2 separate regions of the Homo sapiens genome follow, and region 2 is linked to region 1. Evidence: fine-mapped expression QTL. Tissue or cell type: nasal epithelium. Region 1 holds a variant in brackets; the other region holds the start of a gene. All regions are shown on one strand. Distances are from middle to middle.

Region 1 (8,109 bases):
GGACTTTATCCACAGTAAATAATCCAAAAGGAAAAAAAGACCACAGAAGTACAATAACCATTCGTTGCAGTATTGCTGAATAAAGTAAAAAACTAGAATTAGTGGACTAATCAATGGACAAGGGGTTAAGAAATTCTGAAATAGTAACTAAAAGGATAATTATGCGGGCATGAGCTCGTGGCCTTTCCTAAATAAAAAAAAGTAGTGGGTATAAATATGTATCTAGAAATATATCTAATTTATATTTTTAAAAAGTTAACAGTGATTTCCCACAGGGAGTTAGAGATTATGGAGGAAAAGACATTTTTATAAAAATTATGCCCTTCTATGATTTTTAGCAATTAAAAAACCATATTTATTCTATGGTAGTAACTACACATAAATTATATATGCCTATGAATACATGCTAGAAGGGAAGACGGAAAAATGACAACAGTTGATTTGTTATAATGGTGAAGATTAAGTGCAGTTTCCTCTGTCCTTGATTTCTTTCATTATTATAATGTTTGCATAATTTAAGAATGAAAACAAAAGAACAGCTGCCTTAAATATCTTTGGAAGTAAATAAAGTATAAATAATACATTAATGCATCAAAGTATAGGAAAGGATTGAGTCAAGAAAAGAACTCATAAAATATTTATGAGAATTCACATTTGTGTATGTAAATACAGTCTTTACAAAACAGCCTTCACAAGAAGCAGCAGATCCAAACCAAGGCCAGCCCCTTAGCACATCAATCACAGAATAATGCATCCTGCCAGAAACGGACTGTGATTTGCTGTTCGAAGAAAGATACGGGTATGATACAGTGAGAGATACATTTGAAACTCTGACCACCTCAGAAAACCAACAATCTTTCCCTGTCCTCCTTTTCAGGAGATGATAAGGTCATCCGGTTGTGGCACCCCAATATCAGCACCAAGCCAGTAGGGAAACTTGTAGGACACATGTTCAGTATCGCCGAGATCGTAACCAATGAAAAAGATCAACATGTCGTCAGCCTTTCCTCTGCAAAGGTAACAAAAAGAAAATAACAAAACAAAACTAGTTTTTTCCGGAAAATTATCTGTTGGAAGGCATAGGGATGATACAATTTTTGACTGAAATAAATGATAGTCATTGAATCATTGAGAAAAATATTGTCAGTATGGAAAAGGAAATGATAAGCCAATGTTCTCTCTTTCTATTGATTATAGCATAAGTAAGAACACGTTTAAAAACAAGTGTAAAAGAAAAACAATATTGAAAAGATGGCAAATTTTACCCTCAAAAGTAAAACATAAGGGGCCTTTCAATAGATAGGAACATTAGGAAAAAAATGAGGATTTCTGTTATTAAACAGTGTTTGAAACATTCTAACCAATGTAATAAAACAAAAAAAAAGTTATAAATATTAGAATTCAGAGACTGAATTATATTTGCAAATAATGGGATTACCTGCTTGAAAAGAGATCAATACAATCAACTTTCAGTGTAGGAATAGATAAATTCCATAAGGTGGCTAGTTGCAATGGCAACCTAAAAATAAGATAAAATAAAAATTTCTAAAAAATAAATAAGGAAATAAATAAATAAATGTCTATATAAGAACAATAATTAGTGAGGAAAAAAGGTCAAAGAGATAGCATTCACAAGAGTAAAAAATATGCAATATTAGGAATAAACTTAACAGGCAATATTCACTACTAACATTAAGATAACTATGAAGTTTTACTGTGTTTAAGAACACAAATTAAGGGACATACTATGTTCCTACATGGAAATATTGTGCTGTAAGATATTCTCCATCAGTTTAATATATTTATTTATTGCTAGTCAGAATTACTTAAGTGTCAGCTTGCCAAGTTTAAAGTTAATGTAAAAATACTGGTATATAGGAATATCCTAGAAACTTTGGAAGATATAATTATGAGATGGCACTTTCCCTGTCCAATATTAAAGCATATCATAAAGCCAAAATAAATAAAACAGAGCAATAGTCAATGCAGAAATAATCACATCTATGAAGCAAAGGAGAAAATGCAGGAATTAGTTTATGTCTATGTGGGAATTTTGTATAGGACAGAAATAATGTTTCAAATATGTGAGCAAAGGATGGTTTGTTCAATAAGTGTTGGGAAAACTGATTAGCCATAAAGAAAGAAAGATGTAATCAGATCATGATTTCATAATATACAGCACAATACATTACATATGAATTAAAGATTTTAAATTTAAAATACAAAACCATAGAAATTCTAGATTTCCAGAAGAAAATATAGGTGAATAGTCTTATAACTTTTGGGTAATTCCTAAGCATAGCACCTATGACTAAGGAGAAAGTAAATATGACTAAATAAACATTCAAACTTTCTGTAAATTATAATAACTACCATTTATTGAGTGCTTAAGTGCCAGGCGCTGTGCTAAGTATTTTACATATGCAACTCATTGATGCTAATAACAACCCTATAAAGTAATTCTCCCCATTTTACACACGTCAGGGAAAATGACATCTAAATCACTTACACAAGGTCACAGAGCTATCTAGTGCCGAAGTGTGGTCAATCCCATATTTGCCCTTCCTCAGCCTGCCTCCCTATACTCATAAACAAAGTTAAAGGCAGACAGCAGGGGCAGGGGGCAAAAATGCAATAAAAAGCAGAGAAATTGGAAAAATATCCTTGAACAAATACCAAAAATCTTTAGCAAGTCAGTAGGGGAAAGAAAGTGGAGTGAAGGGCAAAGGTTTAAGAACACAGACAGGTTTACATACTGCTGGGTGGAAATAAAACTGGCAAAAACTTCCTGCGTATTTGTTCTAATAAAATAGCTAGATGAGTGTGCAAAGATCTGTATTAAAGGATGCTCAATGCACTATTGCTTATATTGATTTAAGAAGGAAAAAAGAAAAACAAGAAAATAGGGAGGAAACAGGAAATACAGAAAGGAAATGAAAGAGGGAAGGGAAGGGAAAGAAAAAAACCCGGTTGCTTTCCCTCCACGTCCCCCAGCCCCGCACCTCCCTCCTCGTACACCCCCTACCCCTCATACACCCTCTACCCGATGCAAAACCCTTCGATGGAAGCAATCGGGATCTCCAAGGCCCAGTCGTTCCCTCCATGCTCACGGAACTATGCGAATCTCCCTGGAGCCCATGCTTGCCATGTGCAACCACAAGGGAAAGACTCTAAGGACCTTTGAGGGGTTCCTCCCAGGCTAGAGAGGAAAATGCACCCGGCACCTGCCTCCTCCAGTTCACAACTGAGGACGTGACCTGACCTGCAGGATTCCCCAGCAGGCCAGCAGCCCTCACCTGCCAATATGGTAGCCACAAATTTTTAAAACATGGCTAGTCCGAATTGAGGTCCGCTGTGAGTGTAAAATACACAAGACTCCAAAGATTCACTATCCCCCCACTCCAAAAAAAAAACTCTCAATTTTTTGAGACAGGATCTTGCTCTGTCGTCCGGGCTAGAGTACAATGGCATGGTGCAATGGGGCTCATTGCAGCCTCGGGGCTCTCTGCTGTCTTGACCTACTGGGCTCGAGGGATCCTCCCACCTCAGCCTCCCCAGTAGCTGGGACTACAGGTGGGGGCCACCGTACGAAGCTAATTATTTTTATTTTTTGTAGAGAGCTCTCTTTTTTTTTTTTTAGGTCTGTCTAATTTGCTAATTTTTAAATTTTTGGTAGAGATGGGGTCTTGCTATGTTGCCCGAACTTCTGGGCTCAAGTGAGCCTCCTGCCTCAAAGCACTAGTATAGGCCTGAGCCATGGCACTGGGCCAATCGTTTTTATATTGATTATATATTGAGGTGATAATAATTTGGCTATATAGGGTTAAAAAATACATTAATAAAATTAATTT[T/A]TAAAAAAAGAGCAAGGGACTGCATGTAGTGGCTCATGCTTGTAATCCTGGCACTTTGGGAGGTCAAGGTGGGAGGATCGCTTGAGCCCAGGAGTTCAAGACCAGCCTGGGCAACATAGTGAGACACCATCTTTAAAAAAAGAGATTATGATAATGGTTGCACAACTATTTAAATTGACTAAAACTCACAGAACCTTACACTAAAAGCGGGTGAGTTTTAAGGTAAGTAGATTACACTTCAATATTGCAGTTGAAAAAGAGAGATAATTAGGGTGATGTACCAATAAAGTAAAATTCAAGAGGAAAAAAAGGCTTTGATTAAGTAAATTATGCTGTATCCTCATATACAATAGAAATATCACATAGACATTCAACATTATGTAAATGAATAGTCATATGAAAATATCTAAATAATATATAAAATACAATAATATGTAAGTAATCAATTTTAAATCAATTTTAAAACATAACGTGTCTATCATATGTTATTGGAAATGATTAATAGCAAGATGTTTTAGTGAGGCTAACAAGATTGTGGATATACATGGATGGATTTTTTTCTTTTGTTTTCTCTTTGTTTTTTTAAATAGTAAATATACATTACTTTGTAATAAGGACAAAGTTTTTTTTTTTGAGACGAAGTTTCATTCTTGTTGTCCAGGCTGGAGTGCAATGGCACCATCTCAGCTCACTGCAACCTCTGCCTCCCAGGTTCAAGCTATTCTCCTGCCTCAGCCTCCCAAGTAGCTGGGATTACAGGCTCCTGCCACCATGCCCAGCTCATTTTTGTATTTTTAGTAGAGACAGGGTTTCGTCATGTTGTCCAGGCTGGTCTTGAACTCCTGACCTCAGGTTATCCACCTGCCTCAGCCTCCCAAAGTGCTGGGATTACAGGTGTGAGCCACCGTGCCCAGCTTAGGAAATTTTAATTTTTTTAAGTAGTACTGGAAAGACAGTGAAGGTTTTGAGACACTAAAACTAAAAACATGTTACGATTGAGACCTGGAGTCTCCTACAGATAATTTAAAGAGAAATAAGATATCTTTCTAGCAAAAGTTGAGATCATTCATGCTCAGAGATGAAGAGACAGAAGAGAGAATCTTTCCTATTTCTTTTAAATGTAATGAGTGTATTAAGATGATACTCATTCATGCATCTCAGTAGCACCACTTGGGAAAATTACTTAATATCTTTCCATTTGGTTTCTTCATCTGTAAATGTAGGAATGTTTAGCCCAGAGGGCCATTATAAAGATGAAAGGAGGTCATTCATTTGGTTATTTAACAAATACTTATTTATTTATTGAGTGTCTATTGTGTTAGATACTGTTCTGAGTTCTGAGTTCTAGGGACAAAGCATTGAACAAGGAGGACCAGGGCCCTGCAATGAGAAAGTTGACATGCTAGGGGAAGAGACAGACAAACAAGCAAAGTAACAAGTACATAAGAAAACAGTATGATAAGTATGGTAAGAAATAGGAAACACAGGGCTGGGTGTAATGGCTCAAACCTGTAATCCCAGCACTTTGGGAGGTTGAGCCAGGAGGATTGCTTGAGGCCAGGAGTTCAAAACCAGCCTAGGCAAAATAGCAAGACCCCATCTCTACAAAAACAAAGAAAAAGAAGAAGAAAAGAAATAGAAAACATAGTGGTGCAGTGTGATTGAATCTCACCTCTGAGGAGGTGACATAAAAGCTGAAGCCTGAATGATCAGGGGAACCAGCCCCGTGAAGATCTAGGAAAAGGAAAAGGGCAATTTAGGCAGAAAGAAGAGCAAACTGGGCTGGGTGCCGCAGTTCATGCCTGTAATCCCAGCACTTTGGGAGGCTGAGGTGGGTGGATTATTTGAGGTTAGGAGTTCGAGATCAGCCTGGCCAACATGGTGGAACCCTGTCACTACTAAAACTACAAAAATTAGCCTGGCATGGTGGTAGGCACCTGTAACCCCAGCTACTTGGGAGGCTGAGGCAGGAGAATCGCTTGAACCTGGGAGGTGGAGGTTGCAGAGAGCCGAGATTGCACCACTGCACTCCAGCCTGGGCAATAGAGCGAGACTCAGTCTCAGAAAAGAAGAAGAAGAAAAAAAAAGCAAACTAGGCACATACATGTTTTTGGTTTTTTTATTGAAGCTATATTATTATTTACAGAAAAGGGAACAGACAACATCCCTTCAAACTCTTTCATATAAATTAGCTTTCATCACATTAAGCAGAAAGCATATAAATCGCCATGCATAGTTGTGTGCCCACTACATGCCTTTTCCTAAGCTCTTAAAATAGCAAGATTTTTATTCTTTCTCCTAATTTTGCAGTCTTTCCACCAGGATATTACTTTCTTCCCCAACTGCTAAAATTGTATGTCTAGTCACAGAGCCCAAGTATTGAACAGATGTGCCACATCTATTACACCTGAAGAAGAACTGACGAATGTTGAAAAATGCAGAGACAAATATAATCTTCACTTACTTTCATTTCATCAGCAAAACCAATGGGAGCAATGGTTGGAAACCTTCTCAAGCACAGTTCTATTGACCAAAAGGCTGATTCTCTTCTTCTTTTTTTTTTTCTATGAAGGGGAGAAATTTACATACTTTGATGATTTATAACAGATTACAAATGTATGTAAAAGTTGCTAATTTTCGTACATTTTCACTTTGGAAGTGGTATGTAGAAACCTGAGAAAAGGCAGTTTGACTAGATTGTGAGTGTGCATATCTTCAAAGGCAGTTATCTTTAAAAAAAATTCTGCCTACCTAAAACTGAATTTATTTTCTACTTCAAGTCTTCTCTTCCTTACTTCTGATTTTCCTCTAACTGTTAATGGTATCATTTGTTTCCCAGAGAGCCATAATCCAACTTCAAAGTCACCTTTGATCCTTCTATCTCTGTAAGCCTTGCCACTGGTCAGTTTGAAGTCTCTGAAATGTGTCTCCTGTAAATTACCTCATTCTTCTTCCCAGAGTCATGGCCTTAGTTCAGACCCATCCACCAAGGGGCTCCCAGTTGCAGGTGGCCCATTAGAAAGCACTTGTAGACCTCTTATCTTCAGTTTCTTCTCTCCCCAAACCATCCAGATATTGTACTGCCATGTTGATCCTCCTCCAACCCATTTATAACCTTGTCATTGCCTTCTCACATATATTCAAAGGCCCCTCATGCCTTACAAATAAAGTTCAGATTATTTTTTCTAGTTCTTAAGGTTCTCTAGGGTCTGGAACAAGAATATCTTTTCAGCTTTGTTTGGCTTCAGAAATTCCAAGCCTTACCAAATTCTTCTCCAAAGGCTTTGTGCATTCCCGTCTTTGTCTGAAACAATTCTCCTCCCATTCCCAGACATCCTATATATCCTTTACATCTAAGTGAAATATCATGTCATGCCCAAAGCCTTCACTAAGATAAAAATTGAGTTTTTTTTCCTTTTGGTGAGTGAGAAATGTGTAAATTTGAAATAAACCTGGAGATAGAAAAACTAACCTTTTAAAATGTTACCTTCAAGTTTTAAAAATTTGAAATCTTTCCTTGCTTTAGTTCCTTGTGCTTTCTGTTTGTATGGGATTATCATAAATGATGCAAGTTCAAATACTTTTCTTGTTTCTTTGATAATTGGAAACATCCATGATTGAGAACCTGGTTTCACTGCCTTCATATTTTACTACCTTTTGTCCTCATTCTGTGGCTTGGAACATTCCCTTTTGAGTAAACTGTTTGCAACATTCTTAAGAGTAAGACTTGTTTCAAAACTTTCCTGAGTGACTGTAGGAAAATTTTCTGGGGAAGACAAATATACTATGTATTATAAAACATAAAATGTGAGTGGCCATCTAGGAAGAAAAAATAAAAACTAAGAAAAAAGGGGTGAGGGCACATGCTTTGGAATTCAGTTCTCAACTTGCAATACTTTTTGCTTATGTGCAGGTCTTGTTGCTTTTTCTTTAGTTCATCACCCAGGACAGCTCCTTGACAACCTTCAAAGGAAGACCCTGTGGATAGCTCTGAGTCCTGGGAGCAAACATGCCTACCAAGACCAGGAAGCAGTCCCTATATAAGGCTTCCTTCTGAGTGTGGCTATCACACTTCTATAACCAGGAGCTCTTAGCTATGATTGCACATTTGCTTAAGATGAGGCAGGCTGTTTGTGATTGTTGCCCTTTGGGACTCTTTCCTTTGTAATTTTTATTGCGTTTCTGAGTGTCTTTATTTTATCCTCTAGACTTTCTCTAGACACCTCTACCAGCTTTCAGACCCCTTGCACACACACAT
Region 2 (8,109 bases), 86 kb before region 1:
GTGTGATTCCAGAACAGCTGAATATAAGACCTTTCCATGCCACAACCACCCTTAGGATCTCATGGTAGCAACATGAGACTATTTCTACTCAATTACTAGTCAGATTATTACAAAAGGATTAATTCAGTAAAACAACTGGCCATTTAAAAATATTTAGGCTCATAATAGCCCTGAGGAGGAAAATGTATTAAAAATATTATATGAATGTACACATGCATATAAGTAATAAAGGAAAAAAGTGTGTAAGTGTAAGTAAAAAAGGAAAACTTCTGATTTCATATTAAAATATCTTAACATAAATAATACCTACTTCTAACATTTGAATACAGTGATGTTTGCATTTCGCCACTGTCTCTGCAACCCTGAATCTCTGCATCCCAAGCAAAAGGTCTATCTAAACATCCTCTGCCAAGACTAACACTGTTTGTTCTTATTTTTGAAGGGGAAGTTTAAAAAAAAAAAAATAATAAGGTTCTCCTGTTAACTTTGAGCATAATGCTGGTTACATTCCATGTGCGGAAGACATCTGTGTGATGCCCTGTGTGGCCAGAGGTAGAAAGGCCAAGGTGCTGAAGAGCATACTCACCTGAAAGTCTTTAGGCTAAAGCAACAATACTGCTAAACTTTCTAATATTCATCATTGCACAGTTTTGAGCTCTGGTTTTCACTACTGTTAAACCTACTGAAATATAAATCAGTACAAGCTGTACCTGTCTAGCCCAAGATGACTAATAATCCTGGATACTGGAAAAACAAGCCATTCAATTGGAACTTAGATTAAATTGCATAGGGCACACACCTTTAGTTTAACTAAAATGGCAATCCTAACAGTCCTGTCTAGTCAAAGCCTCTGTCTCAAAAATATCAAGGATTCCACTCATTTTTGGCATTCCCTAAGAAGCCAGGAACTAAGTACAGAATGCAGCAGTTGCCTGGCCCACTCAAGTATAAATATAAGTATGTCTGAATTACTTATTCTGCTTCTTCCAGCAGGGTGTGAAGATGGAGACTGAATCTATGATGGTATCTGAAGAGGTGTAACCATAGTACATGCTGCTTCTTGGCTTAGAAAGACAGGGCTCAGGGTAGGAGTAGGAGCAGAAGACACAATCAATAAGCGCTAAGATCAGGCACGTTCTAACCTACAGATATCAAAGGGGTCATCAAAATGCAAAGCAAGTAGGATGGCCTTACAGAGCATTAAGCTGAATTACCCAATAATAGAGATGAGAGAACTGATAGCTGGAGAGATTAAGTGACTTGAGAAAGCCCGCACAATGCATGAGTCGCAGGATAAGGAACAGGATCCACTCTTGTGCCATCAGACCAATGGTCTTTCCAACAGATAGGGCAAGCCTCTCCAAAAGCCTCTGCATCAAGAAGCTACTTCCCTCATTTTTAACTTCCTCCCCTTCAATACTCCACTGTTAGGTAGTTCTTGCTCAGGGATAACTCAGGAAGTGCCCTCCTTTTCTTCATCCTTAACCTGGATCTAGAAGCACAAACTCCGGAATTTACTCCAGGCAAAGAAATCATCTTCGCTAAAAACTTTTTAAACTCTATAGTAACTTCACTACTAACTTGCCCCCCAGGGCTTAAGTCTCGGAATCTCTTATCTCAGGGTTTCCACCTCTACATTAAAAACAGGGAGAAAGTCATGGTTGAAAGCACTAAATGCCCTGAAAAATAGGGCAGCCCTCAGGCAAAAATCTAAGTGAACTTAGAAAATCACTGGGCTGGGACCCTAGGAGGGATGGTGAAGAAGAAAAACAGGAAGGGAGAAGTGACCAGGAGACACAGGAGGGTGGGATCAGCAGAGGAAAGAGGTGAGGAAGAGGGTGGATGACAGCTAGCACTTATAAAGAACTCAGTACACCCTTGTGTTCAAACTCCCGGGCACGAAAACAGAATTTTCCAGCACAGAAAAGGCACTTCAAGGAAAAAAGAACTTTGATGTCTGTGAACAAACACCTGTTGACTACCCTGGAGAACACTACTGATGATACTTTAGGCTTGGGCTTGAATAACCTTCTTAGCATTGCCGAAGAAACTGCCTGATAGGTATTTTACAATTAATATAAGGAGTGTAATCCCATAGTCGTCCATACCACAGCCTACATACACTTGCAGTCCCCTCCCTAAATTTCAAATGTTTGTTCAAATGAAATTATCAGATTAAAGCTTATGAGGGGCGGGGAGGAAAATATTATAACCTCTGAAGCAATCAAATAAAATCTATTTTCTTATTTCCTTCAAAACGCCAAAAAATGAATCATTACAAATATAATATTTGGGTTTGTCATAGCATAGAGGTTACTGAATAAGAAAATATTTTTGATAATTCTACAAAGATTTTTGTTCTCCCAAACCTACCAAGATTAAAGCAATAAAGTATCAATGGATTTCAGGATTTAAAAAAGGAACTTTAAGCCTTGAGAAATACACATTTCTATTTCAAATCTCCCTACAAATGAAATTCCTGAGGCACACAAAAAAATAATTTCCTTTCTACGCTTCCTTCAATGATTTGCTGAGTTGTTGATCATCCTTCAAAACATCATGTCTCAGTGAAACTTAAATCTTCCATAATAAGAGTACTGTCGAAATACATCTTCAACAATGAAGTTCTACTTTAATGAAATCTACCGATTGCAGAGCTAATTACAGTATTTGTTCACCTGAGATGGTATTGGCTGAGCCATTTGTAATCTCACCCAAGATTCTGGTGTGCTGGAACCCATCTATAAGACGGAAAATAGTAAAAACAGCTTACAGGGCACATGCCAATTTGCATTCTGAGGACCTGAATGAAACTGTCTCATTCCCTAGAAAGCATTCAAAGGTTTACAAGTACTAATGAGAATTTTTTTTTACACATTGTTATTTTGGTTTTCTACTCTCATTTTAGGAAACAAATAGTAGTACATGAATCTAATCTCATCACTCCCTCCAACTTTCACGAGTTAATCACTTTTTTTCTTGAATCTCTTGACTCTACAGGCCCTCGTCTCTTTCCTCAAAGTGTAAAAAGCCGTGGTTTCGTGCCTTGTTGAGTGATCTTAGGAGGTAAAAACAAATAAGAAAGGAGGCGGGCCGGGGTTTGGGGTCAACGTGGGGGGCAGATGAGAGACCACAGGAATGGAGTCCTGGACAGCGTGGGGCGGGAGGGGACGGAGGAAGAGGAAGGCACCCGCCATGCGGCTGGGGTCGGGCAGCGTTGAGGAGGCGAGCGGGGAGCGGGGCGGTGTAGGGCGGGGGGCGCGGGGCCGAGCGGGAAGCGGTGCGGGGCGGGCTGGGGGGCGGACGCACGGAGCGGGCAGCGGGGTGGGGAGTGGAAGTTTGCAGAGGGGAGGCTGCCTTCTCCCAGTCCAACTCACCGAAGAGGCTGCCGCTAAACCCGTCCCACACGCAGCCCACGGTGTCCCACACCCAGCCGTTCCTCAGGCAGGACACGAAGGTAAAGGTGACCCCGAAGAGGGACACCAGCAGGTCGCTGAGGCTGATGTTGACCAGGAGGAGGTGAGTGGGAGTGCGGAGCCGCTGGAACTTGTAGTAGAGGACGAGCACCAGCAGGTTGTTGCCGACGCCCAGCAGCCCAATGGAGCCCAGCAGCAGCGCCAGGCGCTCGTAGGTGCCGGGGCTGAAGAGGGGCGCGGGGCTCAGTGTCCCCGCCGGCGCCGGCCCCTCAGCGCCCGCGGCCCCGCCGCCGTCCCAGTAGCCGTGGCCGCCGCTGCGGTTCCCCGAGTACATGGCCCGGCGCCGGCGCGCCTGGCGGGCGGAGGCGCTCAGCTTGCGGCGGGGCTCGCGGCGCGCTCCGCACTGGGTGGGGTTGGGGCTCCGCCGCCTGCTCTAGCCATTGTGCACTGAGGGGCCCGCGCTACCGCGCGCCGGGCCCGCCCTCTTCCCGCCCCTTCCGCCCGGCGCACCCCCCGTGGCCCCGCCCCTCCCCGCGGCCTGTCCTCGTCGCTCCGCTGCTCCCGGCGCGTCCTCTTAGCCCCGCCCCCCCGCGGGCGCGTCCTCGCGGCTAGCTCGCCCCGCCCCCACTGGCTGGGCACCTTCCGCTGGTCGGCGTGGACGCGCGTCGCGGGATAGCCTGGGGGCCAGGGCCGCAGGGTAGCCTCGATGGCTCTTCACACCCCCACCTCCCTGCACCCACCTTGAAAGCTTCGTGTCCACTCACCCATTCATGCACTCACTTATACATTCATTTATTCCTAAGTATTTATGAGCGCCTGCGCCCACCACGTGCTGGCAAGAATTGGGTTTCTCCCCTTCCTGGGAAGCTGTAATAACCCACAACCAGCCTACGAAGCCCATCCCGCGTCATACACTCAATGTAAACAAAAGCAAAGAAAACATTGAAGAGCTCGGGGTAGTCTTACCGGAAAACTGAGAAGAAAAACAACAAATTGATAGACAGGTGCCTGCCTAACTACCTGACTGCTAGAGGACACATGTCCCAGGGCTGATACAAGAGCCTGCCACCCTTGGAGAGTCTGGGATGAAAACTCTCTGAAAATGGCATTCCAATGGAACTGACTTTAAGCCCTGGGCTGGACCCCAAGGCCTTCCAATACCGTCCTTCCTGTGCTTGAAAGCGTGGGTAGATCTTTCCGGTCACTGAGGCCTGCTAAAGTCCTTCACAGGCAGTGAAAGATTCAACCTAAATCTAGCAGGTATAGGAGGCAGGTGCTATATTTAGAACAGCACACATTTCCCATTGGGCCTCTTCTCCTGTAGTGATGAGAATATAGTACAAGTCAAATATAGGTTGTGAACGTCATCACACTCTGCAAGAGCTGCTTCTGCCTTTGTGGTTGCACAATCCCTAAGGAGGCCCTACAAGAAGATCACAGTCCCCAGCCACACCTGCAGCCTGTCCTGGACACTGGTGACGAACACAGGGTTTGTGCAAGCTAAAGAAACTGCTCTCCATACGGGCGTGCCTCACCTCTGTTTGAAAGATCAGTAGGGAATGACTAGCTTGGATCAATCCACATTCTGAATTCCCTGGAGAGAGGATCTAATAGGCTGGCAGCAGCTCTCCACCCTGGTGCACTGAGCAATAGCTAAGGGGCAGTGTGCTCTGCCTTTGACACCTTGATTTTCCTTCAAGGCTTCTGCTCTGGACTCGCCATCTGTGAGACTTCCTACCCACCCACCCCTTAAAAAACACACACACACTTTTAATTGTTAATTTTAGATTTGTACAACCACTGAACAAAACATAACTATTTAACAAGTTCTATATGTTTAATGTCGAAAGTGTTTTCTGTGTCTAGTCTACAGTAAGTTCTCAATAAATAGTAATTTGAATGAATGAATAAAGAACTCGCTATATTTTTTCCTATTCATTCTTCATTGCTGAGTCATTGCCCTTATAAAGCTCACATTCCAGTCGTGTTGGGAGAACAAACAAAAATTAGATAAATACGTAGGGTGTCAGCCACTGACAAATGCCATGAAGAAATAGGGGTCAGGCGTGGTGGCTCATTCCTGTAACCCCAGCACTTTGGGAGGCCGAGGCAGTAGGATTTCTTAAGCCCAGGAGTTCAAGACCAGCCTGGGCAACAAAGTGAGAACTGCCCCCTAACTCTTCAAAAAATAGAAAATTAGCCAGGCAAGATGGTACATGTCTGTGGTCCCAGCTACTCAGGAGGTTGAGCCAGGAGCTATGGGAGATGGGGCAAGGAGTTTGTAAGAGTTAAAGAAAGAGGAAAGAAACACTAATAGCAGCTCAACAGTCAGACAGTGTTATTTGGAAGAATAAACCTAAGAGGGGCTTCTGGCCGATTTCGGTCAGGAGCACTCTCTTACAGACTAAGAGTATTTAAGGATTTTAGAGTGAGAGAGCTTATCACAGGCGTGGAATGTTTCTGTTTGGAGAAGAAGTTTATTGCCAAGTTGGAATGTCTCTGTCGGAGGGGAGGTTATCTCGGGGCTCGCATGTCTCTGGTCAGGGAGGGGTTTATCTTAGGGTTGGAATGTTTCTGGTCGGAGATGTCATTTGTGGTGTATGGTCATGCTGACCTTAGCCATTAGGCTGATGCTGTTTGGATTTAGGTGGTTTTTGATCAAGGGGAACTTTAAAATGGCAGTGCTTGTCCATGATGGTGATGCACCTGCTCTGTCAAGGTTGTTATTTAGACAAGGTGGTTATGGGCAGGAGTACTGTATTGGTATGTTGGAGGAACAATAAGGAAGCAAGAATGAGAATCGGGAAATGCAGCCAGTCAGGTGGGTGTGCAGTGAATGGCCAGAATATGCAGGACCTTGGCCATTTCAATAAAAGGACTTTGGCTTTTACTCAATCAGAGTAAAGTCCAGGGCAATGCCTACTAGCAGTGAATGCAAAGGAGGAGTAAGAGGCCTTTGACAAATGCTTAAGCATTTTTGACACAGTAATTTTACAATACTATGAACCATTAAGGACATTTATTGAGCTTGACAGAAACAGGCAATGATAAGGATATATGTTTCTTTTTTAATTTTAGAATTATGTAATGACAGGATAATGGCAGAACACTACAATCTTTTATTAAAAAAAAAAACAAAAAACAAACAAATGAAAAACACCAGCATGATATAGTTTGGATGTTTGTCCCCACCCAAATCTCATGTTGAAATATAATCCCCAATATTAGAGGTGGGTCCTAGTGGTAGGTGTTTTGGTCATAGGGGGCGGATCCCTCATGAATGGCCTGGGCCATCCCCTTTGTGATAAGTGAGCTCTGGTCATCTAAAAGTGTGTGGCAACTCCGCCATCCCACTCTCTCTCTCTCTCTCTCCCTATCTGGTTGTCGCCATGTGAGATGCCTGCTCTCACTTTGCCTTCCACCATGAGTAAAAGCTCCCTGAGGCCTCCCCAGAAGCTGAGTAGATGCCAACACCATGCTTCCTGTACAGCCTGCAGAACTGTGAGCCAATTAAATCGCTTTTCTTTATAAATTACCCAGTCTCAGGTATTTACAGCAGTGCAAGAACAGCCTAATACACAGCATAAGGACAAACATGTAGACCAATGGAATAGAATAGAGAGCCAAGATATAAACTCTTACATATATGGTCCATTGATTTTTGACAAGGATGCCAAGGCCATTCAATGGGGAAAGGAGGAAAGGACAGTCTTTTCAACAAATGATGCTGGGAAAACTGCATATCCATGTGCAAATGAATGAAGTTGGAGCCTTACATTATATCATATATAAAAATTAACTCAAAATTGATTGGAGACCTATATGTAAAAGCTAAAACTATAAAACTTTTAGAAGAAAACTTCTTGGGTATGACACCAAAAGCACAGGCAACAGGAGAAAAATAGCTAAATTGGACTTTATCAAAATTAAAAACTGTTATGCATCAAAGGGCACTATCAAAAGAGTGAAAAGACAGCACAGCAAATGGGAGAAATACTTGCAAGTCATATATCTGATAAGGCATCAATATTATAAAGACCCCCTACAACTCAACAACAAAAAACTCCACACAACCCAATTCAGAAATAGGCAAAGGATCTGAGTAGACATTACTCCAAAAATATACTAATGGCCTAAAAGCACATGGAAGGAAACTTACTGTGATTAGTCATTAGGGAAATGCAAATCAAAGCCACAATGACATACCACTTCACACCTACTAGAAGGGCTATCATCAAAAAACAAAACAAAACACAAAAACAAGTGTTGGTTTTTGTGTGGAGATGTGTAGAAATTAGAACCCTGTCGTACTGCTGATGGGAATGTGAAATGGTGTGGCTCCTGTGGAAGACAATTTGGTAGTTCCACAAAAAGTTAAACATAGAATTATTGTGAGCTCATTCCTGTAATCCCAGTGCTTTGGGAAGCTTAAGCAGGATGATCACTTGAGGCCAAGAGTACAATGACCAGCCTGGGCAACATAGTAAGACCCCATCTCTTCAGAAAAAAATAAAAAATTAGCTGGGTGTGGTGGCACATACCTGTAGTCTCACCCAACTATTCAGGAGGCTGAGGCAGAAGGATCCCTTGAGCCCAGGAGTTTGAGGTTGCAGTGAGCTGTGATCGTGTCACTGCGCTCCACCCTGGGCAAGAGAGTGAGACCCTGTCTCAAAACAAAAAAAATTGCCATATG

Evidence for each region. PIP is the estimated chance that this variant, and not a neighbour inherited with it, causes the effect.
Region 2: it holds the start of CHML, and the variant in region 1 is fine-mapped to the expression of CHML in nasal epithelium (TOPMed, PIP 0.97).

The regions. Positions count from the first base shown.
Region 1 is chr1:241,722,420-241,730,528 of GRCh38, forward strand. It overlaps WDR64 (WD repeat domain 64), which reads left to right. Exons shown (of 28, transcript NM_001367482.1): 10 at 878-1,017. The region is part of intron 1 of LOC124904603 (a long non-coding RNA gene); the gene reads right to left. Among named protein-coding and RNA genes, the nearest start is that of WDR64, 74 kb to the left of the region's middle. The variant T/A (reference allele first, on the strand shown) is at 3,852.
Region 2 is chr1:241,636,505-241,644,613 of GRCh38, forward strand. CHML (CHM like Rab escort protein) reads right to left here and starts at 3,865. Exons shown (of 2, transcript NM_001381853.1): 1 at 3,378-3,865. It overlaps OPN3 (opsin 3), which reads right to left and starts at 3,865. Exons shown (of 4, transcript NM_014322.3): 1 at 3,378-3,865. The coding sequence starts at 3,750. RefSeq lists enhancers at 2,992-3,562, 3,563-4,132 and silencers at 3,235-3,284, 3,615-4,194.